2 linked regions of the Homo sapiens genome follow. The protein of the gene in region 1 interacts with the protein of each later gene in a pairwise test. Each region holds a gene or a part of one and is shown on either strand. Other genes may lie near its edges.

Evidence for each region. The genes of interacting proteins can lie anywhere in the genome.
Region 2: the proteins of HMOX1 (region 1) and ARL13B interact in binary tests that used the Homo sapiens proteins (3 or more experiments, as listed by UniProt).

Annotation. Positions count from the first base shown.
Region 1 is NC_000022.11:35,386,630-35,391,674, reverse strand, and holds part of HMOX1 (heme oxygenase 1), read right to left. Parts: intron 4,991-5,045; coding exon 4,499-4,990; intron 1,812-4,498; coding exon 1,712-1,811; intron 1-1,711.
Region 2 is NC_000003.12:94,031,076-94,036,120, reverse strand, and holds part of ARL13B (ADP-ribosylation factor-like protein 13B), read right to left. Parts: intron 791-5,045; coding exon 685-790; exon of another isoform or gene 680-684; intron 1-679. UniProt on the Homo sapiens protein: Cilium-specific protein required to control the microtubule-based, ciliary axoneme structure. May act by maintaining the association between IFT subcomplexes A and B. Binds GTP but is not able to hydrolyze fit; the GTPase activity remains unclear.

The sequences.
Region 1 (5,045 bases):
CTGCAGTGAGCTGTGATTGTGCCACTACACTCCAGACTGGGTGAAAGAGCGAGACCCTGTCTCAAAAAAAAAAAAAAAAAAAAAAAAAGGCCGGGCGCGGTGGCTCACACCTGTAATTACAGCACTTTGGGAGGCCGAGGCGGGCGGATCACAAGGTCAGGAGATCGAGACCATCCTGGCTAACACAGTGAAACCCCGTCTCTACTAAAAATACAAAAAATTAGCCAGGCATGGTGGCGGGCACCTGTAGTCCCAGCTACTCGGGAGGCTGAGGCAGGAGAATGGCGTGAACCTGGGAGGCGGAGCTTGCAGTGAGCCGAGATCATGCCACTGCACTCCAGCCTGGGTGACAGCAAGACTGTCTCAAACGAAAAAAAAAAAACCAAAAAAATAGTAGTAGTGTTATAAAAATGCTTTGTCCTCACAGACCCCGTTGAGGGGATACTAGGATTACCACCTCCCACAGCCAGGGTACCACACTTTGAGAACTGCTTCATTAGGGTGACGTCTCCCTACCCCACCAAATAGCCAAGCCCTCCGGGGTTACAAACCCCTAGCAGAGGGGTCCGTGTGGTCTGGCACAAGTGAGAAAGCCACAAGCCAGGTAGGTTAGGGTGGCACAGGAGGGGAGGCCTAATATAACCTGCCAGGAGGTAGCTAAGCCTTACCTCTTTATTGCTACCCATCCCAAAGCCACACTCCCTCCCTCAGTGTTTTAGGCTTAGTGAGGGTACATTTTGTGGAGCACTTTGGTCTTTTTGGAAGTTTCCAAGATGTTTCAGTACAGCCAGCCTTGATCGTTCTTAGGCACATGAGGGAGGGGCTCACACACAACAAGACTCAGAAGGGACATCTTCCTGTGGTGGGTTCATAGCTGGATACAGGTCCCCAACTCCCTGGCCCACATCAGGGGACCAAAGGCCTAAAAAGGAGTCTAAATTAAGGAGGCAGGAGTTTCCCATGATTTCTGAGGGGTTCTTGTGCACTTCTGAGCCAATAAGCTAGAAGTAGCTGAACCTCACTGGATTTTACGGGTGGGGAAACTGAGGTAGGGAGAAGTCTCATGGCTTGCCCAGAGCCACACGCTGAAGGTTGACCCCAGGTCCTTTTGCCTGCACTCCACTTCTCATACAAAAACACGCAGGTGGCCGGGCACAGTGACTCACGCCTGTAATCTCAGCACTTTGGGAGGCCAAGGTGGGCGGATCACCTGAGGTCAGGAGTTCGAGACCAGCCTGGCCAACATGGTGAAACCCCATCTCTACTAAACATACAAAAAAAAAATTAGCCAGGCATGGTGGTGGGCGCCTGTAATCCCAGCTACTCGGGGGGCTGAGGCAGGATAATTGCTTGAACCCGGGAGGCAGAGGTTGCAGTGAGCTGAGATCGCGCCACTGCACTCCAGCCTGGGTGAGACTCCATCTCAAACAACAACAACAACAAACATTCAGGCTGGCATGGTGGCTCGCGCCTGTAACTGCAGCATGTGGGGAGGCAGAGGCAAGAGGATTGCTTGAAGTCAGGTGTTCAAGACTGGCCTGGGCAATATAGCGAGAACCTGTCCTTACAGGGGCAGTGGGGTGGGGCAGCAGGAAACAACACCCACCACCACCAAACATTCAGAAAACAGAGGAATAGAGATACTACAGTCAGACAGCCAAGTCCCTCCATGTGTAGCCCAGAGGAAGTGCCCCTTCCTGGATGCTCTCACCTTGCACTTTGTTGCTGGCCCGCTGGCGAAGCCCTGGTGCCCGTGAGGGGCTCTGGTCCTTGGTGTCATGGGTCAGCAGCTCCTGCAACTCCTCAAAGAGCTAAAAGACAAAAGACACACATGCCTATCTCAGTGAGAGATGCTACCAGGTCCCAGCTGAAGGTAGGACCTTAAGTTGTGTTAGGAAATACTTTGGAAATAACAAGATGGTAAGAAAAATATTGGCCGGACACGGTGGTGCGCCCCTGTAATCCCAGCACTTTGGGAGGCCAAGATGGGCACATCACGGGTCAGAAGTTTGAGACCAGCCTAGCCAACATAGTGAAACCCCATCTCTAGTAAAGATACAAAAAATTAGCCGGGCGTGGTGGTGCATGCCTGTAATCCCAGCTACTCGGGAGGCTGAGGCAGGAGAAATGCTTGAACCTGGGAAGCTGAGGTTGCAGTGAGCCAAGATCGCCCCATTGCACTCCAGCCCGGGTGACAGGGCGAGACTCTGCAAGAAAGAAAGAAAAGAAAGAAAGAAAGAAAGATAGAAAGAAAGAAAGAAAGAAAGAAAGAAAGAAAGGAAGGAAGGAAGGAAGGAAGGAAGGAAGGAAGGAAGGAAGGAAGGAAGGAAGGAGAAGAAAGAAAGAAAGAAAGAAGAAAGAAAGAAAGAAAGAAAGAAGAAAGAAGAGAGAGAGAGAGAGGAGAGAGAGAGAGAGAGAGAGAGAAAAGAAAGAAAAAGAAAGAAAGAAAGAAAGAAAGAGAGAAAGAAAGAAAGAAAGAAAGAAAATTCATATCCCTTTCATCCACCTTAAGAGATAAGATGTTCCAAGCCCAATTGGCTCCCCTGCCTGCTCTTGCCCTCCCAACCGATAACAATGATCCTGGATTTAGAGTTCACTGTGGCCGCCCATGTCCTTAGCCTGTGTCTCCATGCAAAAGGCTGCGTTGCTTGTTTTGAAATAATATTAAGTGGTATCCTAGTACATGCACTCTTCTGCCGCTGCTTTCTTCTCTTGAGTTTAGATTTGTGAAATTCAGCCTTGGTGAGGTGTGCTGAATGGTATTTGTTAGCCTTGCAGATGAGGAAACTGTAGCTCCTACAGGTTAAGTGCTTTGCCCAAGGACTGATCCAGAGGTCAGGCACTAAGAGCCGTTTTTTTTTGTTTGTTTTTTGTTTTTAATACGGAGTCTCACTCTGTCTCCCAGGCTGGAGTGCAGTGGCGCGATCTCTGCTCACTGCAAGCTCCGCCTCCCGGGTTCACGCCATTCTCCTGCCTCAGCCTCCTGAGTAGCTGGGACTACAGGTGCCCACCACCATGCCCAGCTAATTTTTTTTGTATTTTCTTTTTTTTAGTAGAGATGGGGTTTCACCGTGTTAGTCAGGATGGTCTCGATCTCCTGACTTCGTGATCCACCCGCCTCGGCCTCCCAAAGTGCTGGAATTACAGGCGTGACCCACCACGCCCGGCCAGCCAAGAGCCGTTTTTTTTTGTTTTTGTTTTTGTTTTTTTGGTTTTTGAGACAGAGTCTTGCTCTGTTGCCGTTGCCCAGGCTGGAGTGCAGTAGCATAATCATGGCTTACTGCAGCCTTGACCTCCTGGGCTCAAGCAATCCTCCCACCTCAGCCTCCCAAGTAGCTGGGACTACAGGTGCACGCTACTATGTCTGGCTAATTTTTTCATGTTTTTGTAGAGATGGGGTCTCACTGTGTTGCCAGGGCTGGTCTCAAACTCCTGGGCTCAAGCCATTTTCCTGCTTTGGCCTCCCAAAGTGTTGGTATTATAGGCACGAGCCTGAGAGCCAGTTCTGATTCCAAATCCCTTTTCTTTTAAAAACATTTTTTTCCTTTAAATTTTTTTTTATTTTTTATTTTTGATAGAGACAGGGTCTCACCATGTTGCTCAGGCTGGTCTGAAACTCCTGAGCTCAAGCAATCCGCCCACCTCGGCTTCCCAAAGTGCTGGGATTACAGGCGCGAGCCACTGCACCTGGCCCTTTTCTTTTGCCTACACTTCTCTGAAAGACACAGATTTTCTTCCTCCAAGACGGACTGGATTTTCTGAAGGGGGAGGGTGGAAGGGAAAGGCCTTGTTCCGTAACAGGGGCCAGGACCAGAATCTTCTGCAATCCACGGCTGGGAGTAGGGAGCCAGGAGGGCATGACCCCGAGCCCCAGGCCCCATGGCACCTCCAGGGGGTGGCAGAGAGAGAAGGCTCTATGACATCTGGTTAGAAGGAGCCCCTCACCCCTCCACCTCTGCCCAAGAATTCATCCTTCCAGGCTTTGCGCAAACCCCACCTTCCCCCTGGATTTGAGACACTTGTAGAAAGAGGTAAACCTCTCTGGCTAGGCTGAGAGTCCCTGGAAGGCAGAGGCCACCTGTAACCCTGGGAGTGCCAACCTGGCTATACACTAGTGCACACACAACTTATACATTGCCACAGACTGTTGTCACAGAGAGCTACAACTGATTCTCATGTCCCATTATGACAGTAGTGAATGTTTGAGGGCTTCCTCTGTGCCAGACACTGCTGTGGGGACTTTACTGCTGTAAATTCACTCAAGCCTTATAAGTCTAAGATATAGGTACCATTATTATCCCTATTTTACAGATAGGGAAACTGAGGTACAGAGAGATGAAGGCATTTGCCCAAGATCACCCAGCTAGTAAGTGGCAGTGCTGGAACTCTGGTTCCCTGTGTTAACCATGACCTATAGCACCCTCCCCTACAATGAGAAGGGTCCCTTGGAGGAACAACGGGGGGAGGCAGAGGCTGCCCCAGGCTGCCCGACCCTCACCTGGATGTTGAGCAGGAACGCAGTCTTGGCCTCTTCTATCACCCTCTGCCTGACTGCGGGAGTCATCTCCAGGGAGTTCATGCGGGAGCGGTAGAGCTGCTTGAACTTGGTGGCACTGGCAATGTTGGGGAAGGTGAAGAAGGCCAGGCCCTCGCCAGAGCTGGGCAGGTCCAGGGCTTTCTGGGCAATCTTTTTGAGCACCTGGCCCCCAGACAGGTCACCCAGGTAGCGGGTGTAGGCGTGGGCCACCAGCAGCTCGGGCTCTGTGCGCCCCACCTCGTGGAGCCGCTTCACATAGCGCTGCATGGCTGGTGTGTAGGGGATGACCTCCTGCCAGCGGGGCCCGTACCAGAAGGCCAGGTCCTGCTCCAGGGCAGCCTTGCGGTGCAGCTCTTCTGGGAAGTAGACAGGGGCGAAGACTGGGCTCTCCTTGTTGCGCTCAATCTCCTCCTCCAGGGCCACATAGATGTGGTACAGGGAGGCCATCACCAGCTGAAAGCAGAGTGAGCAGGTCAGGCCGCCAGCCACATAGAAGACCCCCACCTCT
Region 2 (5,045 bases), on another chromosome or scaffold:
TATGACATCTCTCCTGATATGATTTATCTTTTCTTTTTTTGTTTTTTAGAGGCAGTGTCTCATTCTGTTGGCCAGGCTGGAGTGCAGTGGCTGAATTAGAACTCACTGCAGCCTCAGCCTCCCAGGGTCCAGTGGTCTTCCCACCTCAGCCCCCTCAAGCAGCTGGGACTACAGGAACACACTACCACACCCAGCTAGTTTTTGTATTTTTTGTAGAGCTAGGGTCTCACTATGTTGCCCAGGTTGGTCTCAAACTCCTGGGCTCAAGCAATCTGCCCCCTTCAACCTCCCAAAGTGCTGGGATTACAGGCATGAGCTACCATGCCCAGCAAAATAATTTTTCAAAATTCATTATGAATCTCTCATATGTTTAAATTTTGTATTTACACTTTTCTTTCCCATTTTACAAATTTCATGCCATGATGTGTTGGCTATGTTAAAACGCAAATGTGAAGCTCCTTGAAATCATGGAAAGATAGTTCATGGAAATAACAATGAAATAGACAACAAATATTATGGTATTAAGTTATATCAACAGAAAAATGGGAATGTGATTTCATAGGTTACAAAAAATTCTTTGAAAACATTGCCTTTTAATTGCTATCACTTTTATAAAAACCAAGTTATACTGAACCTATTTGAAAGGACAAAAAATTAAAATTAAAAAAAAAAAAAAAACCTTACTATCTGACACAGGCACTTGTGCTCATTGACCAATTTTTCCAGAGATAGACATTCAATGACATCAGCTTCTCCTAAAGCTCCTTCTTTATCTTGTTTATTTGCCAACCTGAAAGATAATTAAAGTACTTTTATACAGCATATATATAATTGGATGGAAACTTAAAGATATTTTGACCACATTCTTTTTTTTTTTTTTTTTTGAGACTGAGTCTTGCTCTGTTTCCCAGGCTGGAGTACAGTGGTGCAATCTCAGCTCACTGCAACCTCCGCCTCCCAGGTTCAAGTGATTCTCCTGCCTCAGCCTCCAGAGTAGCTGGGACTACAGTTGTGTGCCACCACGCGAGGCTAATTTTTTGTATTTTCAGTAGAGACTGGGTTTCGCCATGTTGGCCAGGCTGGTCTTGAACTCCTGACCTCAAGTGATCTGTCAGTCTCAGCCTCTCAAAGTGCTGGGATTACAGATATCATCCACCATGCCTGGCCTGACCACATTCTTTGATTCCCAAGTTTTAAATGTACTGATTACAGAACACACTAGTATCTTAAAATGTTGTAGCATCAATTTTGTCATTTTTCCCTTATTATTGCTAAAATAGTTTTTAAGTACTGGCCTATAAAAGGAAAATCAAATAAAGTGTCAAGAAAACATAAACAAGAGATCAATATGCCAACAAAACAGAAAAAGCTACAAAACAGAAAAATAAGAGGACTAATTTCCACAGGTCACATCCATAAATTATATTCTTATCTTCTTAAAATACAAACTGTAATGTTTTAAATGCCCAAATATTCATTCTGAACTTTTAATATTTGAGCTCATCTACAATTCTAATGTGTGAATGTGTCCACATAAATGTGCAATTTACTGAAGACCCAAGGCCACTTCTAATATACTTGGCAAAGCACTGGGAATTAAAAAAAAAAAAAAAATTGTACTCAATTAGAGACAAACTGGACACCAACAAAATGGAAAACCAATATATTCTACAGAAAAACAGGATTTACCACAATTTACCACTATTTAATTATATAACATAGATTTAAAAGTTTAATAAAATACTGCCTTGCTCAAAGTTTGACAGACTCTTTAGGTTAAAAAAAAAATTAAGTACATAGACTAAGAAATCTAACGAACCCTTCCCACCTATCTTTAAAAATTATCAAAACTGTGTCATTCTTGCTTATCTATATACCTTCTTTTTTTTTGTATTTCCCAAGTTACCATTAAAATCTACATACCTTCTATTTTGCTGCCTGAATCACATTACTTCACCCAGATATTAAAAAATCATTACCATGATACCACTATCACACCTAACAAAATTAACAGTAAGTCTTCAATATTACTCAATTTACTCAATATTCTCCAATATCATTTTACAAGTGTTATGTTTAAATTCAGGTCCAATATACGTTACTTATCACTTAACTCTTTTTGAATCTATATTATACCTGCCCTCCCCACTACCACCCCCATGACTCTTTTCCTCCCATGACATTTGTAATTTTTCTTTAGAATTCCCATGTTTGGGATTTGGCTAATATCTTCCTTATAAACTTATTTAACATACCTATCCTATATTTCCCGTATCTGGTGGTAAGAAGCTGGATGAGTTTCAGATGAAATCTTTTTGGCAAGCATACTTCGTAGGTGGTGCTTGTATTTAGGGAGGCATATAATATCACTTTTATATAATGTCCTATTTTGGTGGTATAAAATTAACTAATGGATTTACATTTAGCCTGATCCATCCAAAATAAAGTTCCTCATTAATCTTTCACTTAATGATTTTAGCAGCCATTGATGACCTTTACTTAATTCTATTATTTTACCAAAGTTTATGAAACAGTAACTTTATAGTTCCATATTCCTTCTGCATTTACTAGCAGGATTCTTGCTAAAAATAAGCTTTCACCAACTACTTGGTGCCTCTTAAAATTCACAAAGTCAAGATAAATGTTTGATCCTTTGCCTTTATTTCCTGATTTTCAAAATAATGAATTAATGGCGTAGCAACCTCCGAAGGTGATCAGGTTGATTTAAAAAAAAAAAATCCTATAAATTTAAGGATTATGAGTGCAGTTTTGTGATGTAAATGTATTGCATAGTGGTGATATATTGCATAGTGGTGAGGTCTGGGCTTTCAGTGTAACCATAAGCTTAATAATGTGCATTGTAGGTATTAATTTCTCATCTCTAACTCCCCTTCCACCCTCCCACCTGTCCAAGTCTCCAATGTCTATTAATCCACACTCCATGTCAATGTGTACACATTATTTAACTTCCACTTGTGAGAACACGCTAGATTTGACTGTTTCTGAATTATTTCACTTTAAAAAATGACCTCCAGCTCCATCCACGTTGCTGGAAAAAACATGCTTTTTTAAATAGTTGAATAGCATTCCATTTTATGTATGTATATACAAAACACACACACAAACATTTTCTTTCATCATCCATTGAAGGACATTTAGGTTGACTCCCTACCTTTGCTACTGTGAATAATGCTGTGATAAACATCTTGAGTTCAGATATCTTTTCTTGTATAATGATTTCTTTTCCTTTGGATAGGTACCCAGTAGTGAGGTTGCTAGACTGAATGGTAGTTCTTTTTTTAGGTCTTTAAGAAATCTCCATACTGGCCGGGCACGGTGGCTTACGCCTGTAATCCCAGCACTTTGGGAGGCCGAGGCGGGCGGATCACAAGGTCAGGAGATCGAGACCATCCTGGCTAACACGGTGAAACCCCATCTCTACTAAAAATACAAAAAACTAGCCGGGCGTGGTGGCAGGCGCCTGTAGTCCCAGCTACTCGGGAGGCTGAGGCAGGAGAAGGGCATGAACCCGGGAGGCAGAGCTTGCAGTGAGCCGAGATCGCGCCACTACACTTCAGCCTGGGCAACACAGCGAGACTCCGTCTCAAAAGAAAAAAAAAAAAGAAATCTCCATACTGTTTTCCATAGTGATTGTACTAATTTACATTCCAAGAGTGTATAAACATTCCTTTTGCTACACAATCTCGCAGACATCTGCTATGTTTTAACTTTTCAGTAACAGCTAAAAATTCTGACTGGTGTGAGATGGTATTTCATTGTGGTTTTAATCTGCATTTCTCTGATTAGGCATATTGAGCATTTTTTTCATATGCTTGTTGGCCATCTGTATGTCTTCTTTTGAAAAATGACTATTCATGTCTTTTGCACATTTTTAATGGGGTTGTTTTTTGTTGTTGATTTCCTTGTAAGTTTTGGTTATTAGTCTCCTATAGGATAAAGAGGTCGCAAATATTTTCCCTCATTCTGCAGGCTGTTTGCTCCATTGATTACTTCTTTTGCTGTGCAGAAGTTTTTACTTAATAATTAAGTCCCATTTGTCTATTTCTGGTTTTGTTGCTTTTGCTTTTGAGGTCTTAGTCATGAATTATTTGCCTAGACCAATGTCCAGAAGAGTTTCATCAGTTTTCTTCCAGTATTTTTCAGGTCTTACATTAAGTCTTTAATGCACCCTGAGTTAATTTTTGTATATGGTGAGAGACAGGGTTCCAGTTTCATTCTTCTGCATATGGCAATTGAATTTTCCTAGCATCGCTGTACCCATCATCTGGGTTCTCTATTCTTTTCCATTGATCTATTCATCTATTTCTATACCAGTACCATGCTACTTTGGTTACAATAACCTTGTAGTATAATTTAAGGTCAGATAATATGATGCCTCCAGCTTTGTTCTTTTTGCTTAGGACTGCTTTGGCTATTCAGGCTTTTTGGTACTTTTTCTTATTTTGAGAGGCATCATTATGAACTTATGGATTTAAAAATGTATTTGATGTGTTTCAATTTGTTGCAGTTATTGCTCTTTTTAAGGCTCAAAGGTACCCATTTTGAGGCAGCAGGAGTCCCCTTCAGGTTGGCTCTTGGACCCTTTTGGTACAACTCCAACAGTCTTTGATAGCTTCTTTATGTTCTACTATGAAACAAGGTTCCAGACTTGCAATCATCCATTTCCCCAAGAAGCCTTGATCTTTTCAGTGGAAAATGGCATTTTAAAGACTAAAACCTAGGAGTTATAGATAAACATTTGCTATTGACTTACTACTGCTTCTAGGCCCTTTCAGTGCACAAAGCTAGGAAATAGTTTTATTCTAGAAAAAAAAAAAATCTAACCATGTATTCGTGTTGATTTTTTCATTTCAAATCAACTACCAAGTTTTACTTAGCTTCTTAAATCTTGTTTTTGTTTATTTCTTTGAGACAGGGTCTCACTCTGTTGCCCAGGCTTAAGTGCAGAGGTGTGACAACAGCTCACTACAGCCTCTACCTCCCAGGCTTGAGCCATCCTCCCACCTCAGCCTCTCAAGTAGCTG